2 separate regions of the Homo sapiens genome follow, and region 2 is linked to region 1. Evidence: fine-mapped expression QTL. A gene starts in region 1. The other region holds a variant in brackets. All regions are shown on one strand. Distances are from middle to middle.

What was found. PIP is the estimated chance that this variant, and not a neighbour inherited with it, causes the effect.
Region 2: its variant is the best candidate, but not a certain one, in a credible set for the expression of FLI1 in whole blood (INTERVAL, PIP 0.72).

What each region holds. Positions count from the first base shown.
Region 1 is chr11:128,691,722-128,696,107 of GRCh38, reverse strand. FLI1 (Fli-1 proto-oncogene, ETS transcription factor) reads right to left here and starts at 2,036. Exons shown (of 9, transcript NM_002017.5): 1 at 1,832-2,036. The coding sequence starts at 1,849. It overlaps SENCR (smooth muscle and endothelial cell enriched migration/differentiation-associated lncRNA), which reads left to right and starts at 85. Exons shown (of 3, transcript NR_038908.1): 1 at 85-195; 2 at 2,717-3,453; 3 at 3,987-4,386. RefSeq lists silencers at 1,005-1,134, 1,185-1,404, 1,445-1,494, 1,715-2,084, 2,768-2,907 and 1 more and a cis regulatory region at 1,816-2,548.
Region 2 is chr11:128,733,317-128,737,702 of GRCh38, reverse strand. All of the region lies in intron 1 of FLI1 (Fli-1 proto-oncogene, ETS transcription factor), which reads right to left. Among named protein-coding and RNA genes, the nearest start is that of SENCR, 39 kb to the right of the region's middle. RefSeq lists enhancers at 3,109-3,654, 3,408-3,697. The variant A/T (reference allele first, on the strand shown) is at 2,429.

The DNA of each region.
Region 1 (4,386 bases):
GCCATGCCAATCCCTGTGTGTATCTAAAGAGGTTAGCACATCCTGGGTACACAGACCACAGCTTCCTCCTTTTGCTCAGGGCCTGTGCGTAGAGTTTAAGCAGTGTGGAGATATTTCTTCACTTTTCCTTAGGGTGTCCACATCAAGACCCTGAGGCCATCTTACCACCCTTCTGGATCAGAAGAGGCCTTCAGAGTAAGTGGTAACTGTCCTGATTGGGGCGAGGGAGTTTTCTAGAGGGGAGCATCTCATTACTAAACCCAGAAATACAGAGACACTTGCATGAACACATCAACAGGAAGCAGAGAAACAGGCATAAAATGGCCCAATGACCCCCACTCTCGGGTCTTTGCAGGAATCCCCTCTCACCTACTTCTCACCTACTCACTTTGGGTTTGAGGAACCCAGGCTCTTATAGGCTCTTATAGCTCCCTTTAACCCATCACAGTCAGTTATCTCATCTCCAGATTTGCAAGTTCCTTCGGTTGGTGTCTTTTACCTAAGTCAGCATATTTCAAACTTTCATAAAAAAAACTTAGAAAATAAAAACCACGACCCCACCCAGAAGATAAAAATCTCTTGAATTCTCTGAGCCCAACATCTTAGCCTTCTCTTGCTGAGCCCTGAGCAGGGAGTCGATTCTTTCGGGTTCTGGGGAATGGCGGGCTCTGCCAGTCCCCACCTCGCCAGCCTAATAGTTTTTCCAGACAGACTCCCGCTTGGTGTTGCGCGGCAGCCTCGAAGCTAACCCCTGGTCCCATTCATTCCCCTAGGTCCTCTAAGGCCCGTCACGTTAGGGGGTGTCCCTCCTCTCTGCTCCTGGCCCTACTTGGCGAACCCTTTCAGAGACAGCAGTCAACTTTTCTGAAGTGAGACGCGAACCCAAACCCTCACCTTTCCGCCTGGGTTGCACTTTGCAACCTAGACCCAGGCTTGGCGGCGGCGGCTGGGGTGGGAATGGCCGGGCGGGCGCGGGGCGCGGGCTCACAGCCGGCCCCTGCAACGGAGGCGGCTCCGAAGGACGCAGGACCCTTTCGGAGGCGACAGCTCCAGGAGCCCTGGTCCTGGAGCCGGCGCACGCCTAGGCGCGAAGGGCGGGGGCTCGGGGCGCTAGGGATCTGTGCGGACGGGGGCTGGGGAAGGTTCCCCGCCGGAGAGGCGGCGAGGCCGGCCCAGGAGTCCCGCGGAGCCGGCGGCTCTCCAGCGCCTAGAGCCGGGCGACTGAGTGCCGAGAGGAAGGGAAAGCGCTGACATGTAAACAGGGGCTTCCATCTGGAGGAGCCCGCTCAGATAGATCCCCCGACACACTCACTTGCACCCCTACCCTCGTGCAACGAGGCCACTTACCCACCCCAGGGCCCACCAGGCAGGGACCCGAGCCCGGGCGACTGCAGCCCCCGCCCCCGCCGTGTTCCGCCTCTGCGGAGAGGAAGCCCAGTGCCTAGCGCTGGGGCCACGGGAGCCCCGGGTGTCGGTGGGAGTGGTGGACCCCGAGGTCTCTCGCCCTTGACTCCGTTCCGTACCCTGGGGTCCCCCGGTTTCCCGCCGTCCCCTCCTGCAGCCCCGGCGGGCAGCGAGGTGGGAGGGGGGCCGGGGCTCCACTTTGGGGGCTGGGATTTCGGGGGAGGGTCGCCCTCAATGCGGGCGCCTGGCCGGCTGGCCCGCGAGTAGGACTCGCCACCCGAGCGCCGGAGGAGCCGGCGCGAAGCCGGGGCGCGGAGGGAAGGGAGAGAGGCCACGTCTTCCGGGACGCGGGCCCCGCACCTACCCGCCCGCCGCTTCGCCTCCCCGGCCGGTCCCCGCCGCCCGCGTCCGTTGCCCCGCCGCTTACCTTAATAGTCCCGTCCATTTGGCCAAGTCTGCAGCCGAGCCCCCCAATATTCCACACATTGACCCGGTTACAGCCTGACCTCGCAGCCCCTTCGGATTAGCCCGGCGCGGCCTCCCTGGCGCCCTGGGCCCTCCCTGCGTGCCCCCTGCGAGCGCCCTGCCCTCACTCCCCTGTGCACGTTTGTTGTTGTAGCGGAGCGAAAGAGACAGTTAACCGGATGAAACTTTTTTTTCAGCTAATTTTGGGAAGTGACTTCACTTTGCGAATCGGGGAGGAAGTCCTATCTCTCTCTCTCTCTCTCTCTCTCTCTCTCTCTCTCTCTCTCTCTCTCTCTCGCCTCGAGCTCTCCTCTCTCTTCTCTCCCCTCTGCTCTCCCTCGTCTTCCCTCCCCCCCCACACCCCCTCTTCCTCCCCTGCTGGTCCTGCTTTTCGCATCACACACTATATAAATATACGCGGAGATGCCCAGACACATTCATGCGCTGCGCACACAGGATACTTGCTCCTGGGAGATAAGAGCTAGCCGGGAACAATGACGGGGTCCACGCCCAGCGTCCGCGCCCTGATTCCCGAAGTCTGAACCTCCCCCCATCACCTTCCCCCAAAATCCAAAGCCAAAGACCTTTGGCTTCTTTGCTTTTCCTGAGGCGGTTGGCCGAAGGTGGCCCTCCTGACTCATTCACTTTCCGTTTCTTCCCACAGATACGTTCATTAATGCTTTTTCCAGCCGGAGACAAACTTTTTGGGGGTGGGGTAGGGGGGGTATGGAGGGAGAGTTGGCTAGGGCTGCGGGTAACCCAGCGCCTACTGCCGGGGAAGACTCGGACGAAAACCGAGGCAAACCAACCATTAAAAAGTGCATCCAATAAGAATTTTTCCACTCAGGCCCTCCGCTGCCGAGACGCGGCAGACTCCCAGAGCGGCTCACCCACTCATCGAAGCGGATTCTGGGCGGTTTCGGGCTGACCCGCGCTGTCAGGGCGCGGACTCCATTCCGGGCGCATTGTTAGGAGAAGGGGCCCCTCGGGGCGGCGCGCCTCGACCCTGGGCTCCCGGTGCCCGCAGAGGGCGGAGATCCGCGGCGCCCTAGGCCACCTATCCGCATCTTCTCGAGCCAAACCCCCAGCGCTTACCCGGACCCGACGGCCCAAGCACTGACTCCCAGGCAAGAGTCGCCCTTCCTGGTCCCCAGGGAACTGACACTACCGCGGGACGTTCCCTCTAGGACAGTCAGCAGGTCCCAGGAGCGCAGCACGCAACAGCGCAGAGCAGACCCAGACTTTTCCCGGGGTGAGACCCGGAGGCCCGCGCTCTGGACCGTCCTCCCTACCCAGCCTGGAGGCCGGCGTTCCCCGGCCCAACCCGGAGACCTCCCCGCCTCCCTCCTGGGCCGCCGCGCGCCCCAGTTGGAGCAGCCTCGAGGGGCTGGGCCCTTTCGGCCGGACTCCCTTCTCCCGGACATCCAAAACAGGTTACCTTGTCCACGCTCTCCGGACCACGCTTTGGACTTGCTCACTTTTATTTAAGAGTCCGACGGGGGAAAGAGGGAAAAAAAATCCAGAGGAGATCCAAGTCAATTGGAAGAAAAAATTTCAAAAGGGTGTCCACAGAGGCGAAAAAAGGTGACTTATTAATTCTTTATTTCTTCAGGAGCAATTGAGCCCGAGAGCTCACTCGTCTCCCTCCCTCCCCCTCCCTCTCTAGAAATTAGTCTCATCAATTCGGCTCCAATTTTGGGTTCGAATACAGACACGGGTCTGAACGTGACCAGACCTGGAGTGGCGGGTGCAGCCTGCCAGCAATTGAGACTTGGTGTGCGTGTTGGGGGTGGGGGTGGGGTGGATGGTGGGATGGGGGCCGGGCTGACTCCCCCCGCTCCTGTCTGCTTCTCAATCCAGGGGTCTGCTCCGGGGCTCCCCTGGGACCGCCACATCTGGTTACCGCTAGCGGGGTCAGTCCCCCCCTTTGCCTGGGGCCACCAGTTCTGGAGTTCAATTAAAAGAAATCAGGCTTAACCCTTTCCTCCCCGCGGCAGGCTGCCTGCCCTCTCACTCCTCCCTTCAGCGTTTCCACGTGCTTTCCAGAGAGGAAAGAGGTTAACGGGAAAGGAAGAATGAATTACATCCTTTCAAACCCCAAATTGTTTCCTTTTCAGCCCAGGCTCTACCGACCTTCAAACTACAACAGAGCTTTCAGGAGAATGCGGAGAGACGGCTTCCCACCCGGACCTCACCAGAAACCCGCACACCCCAGCCACATTGCTCCTCATTCAGCCAGAAAGGACTCCAACTCCACCACCAGGAGGCCCCCCTTCCTGGTGCTGGCCAGTTGCAGAGGCTGTTCATGGCATCCCACAGGTGGCGACTGCCCCCCACCCTCCTCCTAGCACTTTAGAGGGTCCCTCTGTGGCAGACACCATGGCTAGGTTTCTCTTTCCAACTCCTGTTGGTCTGGCAAGTGACAGATCATCTTCACTACATTAATCAGTAGTCACCCGAACATTCCTATACTGTCCCCCAATTCCTTTCAGCACCAGCTGCCTCCCCCACTGGAAT
Region 2 (4,386 bases), 42 kb before region 1:
GTACCTCAATAAGCCCTGGATGGCCATTTCTAGGATGGGAAGTGAGATTATGGGGTACCCTGAGGCAAGAGGGCTTTTCCTCGATCTCTATTTAAATTTTCTACAGAATACATTCATGCATCATTTATTTCATTTAAAATAAATTTTTAAAGATAAAGGAAAATAGAAATGTCTTGTTCACAGATGAGTTCATGGTTTGGAGACAGAGCTGGACTACATTCTTGACAAAGATTTGTTCAAGTTCTAGAACTCATAGACATTAGAGAGGAGGACCATGTTGAACAGAGCTCGTGTTCCGGTGTGGTGGGGGCTGTGATGGGAGACGCATGCCCCATATGTGTCTATCATTCAAGCCTTGTTTGTAAAAACCCTCCTTTCTGCTTCAGCGTTTGTCTTTTTCAGCTCCCAGTGAAGGAGGCCTGACAATAGTGTGGTGAGGTGGTCAGGGAACTAACCCATTTTACAGATGAGGGAGTGGATGAGCTTGCACCCTGGCCTCCCCTACTGTGTCCTGCTCCCACTGAGCCCTGCCATCCCTTCCATGTAGCTAGCTGGATTCAACAAACTCAGTTTGAAAAAGGGCTTTCCGAAGTCCCTATCCACTTGAGTTAGATCTACTGCAGAATACTGCCTCTTGAGCACTGAAAGATATCCATATTCTTTCACAGAAATATATACATCTTTTTGAAAATGTTTGGTTGGGTTTGTGGTCGGAGGCTTGGCATGGTTGTTTGTTTGTTAGAATGTGCCTCCTTTGGGAAGAATGCAAACCAGGGGCTGTATTGGGATGCTGAGTCAGGCTCTGCCCTCAGTGACAAGGGGTCTTTGTCTTGTTCATGGTTCTCCCCACACACCTGCATACACACAGATACCCACAAAAGTGCATTTTGAAAACTAATAAAAATTGCACTGAAAATATTTAACTTATGCAAATACTACTATAGCAGAAAGTACACACATATACAAAACAGCAGCTATCTTTTCTAGAATCTGAACAAAATTTTCTGTTGATTATATATACAGAATTTGCTGAACATTTGCCTTGGGAAACCAATAAACAATGCAGTTATTGGTCCACTGTCAGCTTAGGCTTCTGTTTTGAGATGTTTTACCTATAGTGGAAATTGTCATCTGTACCTGGCATGTTTCTGGGTGTGTCTAAAATGAGCATGTCTCAAGAAATCTTTCCAGGTTCCTACATTCTCAACCAAAGTTGCTCAAGTGAGAAAGCAACTCAGGATATCAAGCTACCAGTTAGAATTTCAAGTATGACAAGCCTGCTACAAGAGTGTATCTTATCTGTGGCCTCTAGGGTTTCAGAAGCCAGAGGGCTCATGCTACCGCCAAAAGCTGTGGCTTACCAACTCGTATCACCCCTTTCATTGGAAGTTTCTTAAGATTCCAAAATGTGAGAATTATTATCAGGTGTTCTTTGTCTAATGATGTCTGATTGCTCTGCATATATGAATGAATGCCTACAGCTCTTCGGAAAGGAAAGCAAAGAATAATGTTCTTATGCTGGGCGGGGGTGGAGGGTGGGGACTTAGGGGGTGGTTGAATGTTCAGCTCTAGTAGCTTGCATTTCCTGTTTAGTGGGTGTGAGGGGTTTACACAAGAAAGTCTCAGTGTTACGCTAGATGGATAGCCTCATCGATCATGTCTAAGGAATCTCTGCCTAAAGATGATCAATTTGGCCTCTGCATACCACAAGGAGGTTTCAGTATTTAAGAACTTCGGGATCAACCATGTCCTAATTCTAGATACGTGTTTCGATTGTCTTGTCCTATTTGTTCAAAATTCCCTTCAAAGTTAAACAATTTATCAGGCCAGCTCATAGGACCCTTGAAGGAAAATTTGAAAAACATCTTATTATTCTAAATACTATTTTCTGTTTGCAGGAATGATATGAATTTGCAAAGAGACTTGGCATCTAAAGGTGGGGGGAGGCTCAGGAAGCCCTAGGAAGTTCATAAGAACTTTACAACTTAGTTTCCAAGTTCAGACTTCTGGTTCACTCAGCTACCTAGGCCATCATGGGTCACACAGCTGTGATAAAGTTACCTTTCCTATCTTATCTAGACATCTGATAATGTGGATAATGTGAGGATTATTTCTCCATCATCAAATTGATCTCTAAAGGAATTATACCAAACATACAGTCACAAAGTTCTCCCAAATTGGTGATCAGCTCTCTGAAAATTAAAATCAAATGGTATCTTAGGAAGTATGCTATTTTCTTAGATGTATCCAAACCTTAGAAATAAAAAGCCCACCTTAAATCCATCAATACAAATAAGCGATAACCATGATTACTTCTATGTTATTATACAGGACTTTAAATATACACTGAGGTGCCAGAACAAAGTCCTAGGCTGGTTGAATTCTTGTGTCCAGCTCCATCTCTGCCTCTGTCTCTTTTTAATGGAAC[A/T]GGCAGATGATGCATTTTCTAGACTTATTTCCCCTCATTTTGTTGTTATCAGTAATAATAATGACAAGGAAAATTGTAGATTATTTTATAGTTTAAGACATTGATCTTAATAGGAGCCTTCCCACATCTATAATCTTATTTAATTACTCTAATAAACTGGAGAAGAAGGCAGGATTATTCCCCTCCCCCACTTTGCTGATGAAGAAACAAAGGTTCTGAAGGACTACGTTCGTGGTCATAAAGCGGGAAGGGGAAGAGTGTGAGGCCAACCCTCTGGACTCCCTTCCGTGGGGCCCTTTCCACGAGGCTGCACTTTCTCAGCTGCATTCTTTGCCCACAAACACTACAGCAATTAGTACATTTATTTTTCCATATTGATACTATTTTTCTTTCCCTTTTGATCTTGCCCCTTTGGTTAGATGGTAGGCGATTTTAGGGCAAGATCTTTATCTGTTCGTTATTTACCGTTTGAACTTTCAGTGGGCTCATTAGGGGTCCAGGGACATTTGCTGATTGATGGCATGCACTGGACATGAGCCTGCTGGCTTTGACATTTTAAAACTGCACACTTCCCTCAGTGACAGTATGCCCAAGCAACAGGCCTCCCTGACATTTTCTCAAAACCAGGAAATGAAACTGGCCACCAAGAGCAAGTGACCGCCAGCCAGGGCATTGGTGCAAACCAAGCAAAACACACCACAGTGCAGGCAGCGCGGGTCACAAGGATGAAGGCATTCGATCTGCAGTTATCTTTGAAGAAATGTAACATGTTCCTTCCTCCCACCGTGGTTTCAGCCACAATCATCCTCCTGTTTTAAACAGGTTGAATTATGTTCCTATACAATATTTGTACACAAAACCCAACCTTAGACATGCTTTTCCCTATGATCTTGGTCTCTGCACACGCACGAGAATAGCCTTCTTCCATCTGAGTACTCAGCTCGATCCTGCTTAGCTTCCAAGATCAGATGAGGCACGTTCAGAGCACTGTGGACGTGGACAGCGCAGCCTCCTCCAAACGTTTTGGCTGAATTGGAGGACAAAGCAGGGCTGTTTAATATGCAAAACATCTTTTTCTCGCATTTTCCTTTCTATAGCTTCCCCTGTTTAACCACCCCTCTCCACCTCGCTTTTAACCAAGTCAAATCTTTGGCAAATGGTTTTGGGGATATTTTTCAGCACGTGGTAGCAAAGATATTTTCTGTCTGTGGCCTCGGAGCCCCTGGGCGCTCTGGGGAAGCTGCCATTGCACAGGTAGCAGTACTCTGAACCCCTGCAGCTCAGCAGCAAGCCCCGGTCATAATCATGTGCTCTGTCGCTCCTCTCCTCACTGTGCTGATTGCAGCCCAGATAGGAGGAGCATGTGGGAGCTGACTCCTCACTGAACAATGACTTGAGAGAGAGAAAGACAAGAACTTCTTTGCATATGAATGCATCAACATGTGCCTCTCTGGGTACCTTTGCTCCATGTGAAAGGAAGGGAGGCAGCCAAAGTGACCCTTGGCTAATTAGACAAAGGCAGATGGGCACAACAGAGAAAACTTCTGCTGGATCCAGTATTTGCACAGCTTCAGGGACTTTCAGCGCACAGCATCTTATATCACACATGCATAACATTCCTGCCAACTGAGTCCAAATGGCGAATGTGATCTTTGTAGCTTGACCTGTGACACCCAACAAATTCTAGGCAATGGTTGGATTTGCTGTCTGTGACTCACTTTGCATGTTTCCATTATTTTTATCTACTCTGGCCCACTAACTTGACCGTGTTCACTCAGCATCAGCCAGGTTCTAAAGAGTGAGGGGAAGCTGAGAAAGCTTGAATGGCGGAGTGTGTAGAGCTACTGAGATGCTTCCGGGACACCAGCAGGACACTAATCCTACTAGTTTTTCTCCTAGTGTGGATCCTGGACTTGCTGCCTCAAAATCACTTGAAGTGTTGTTAAAAATGAAGATTC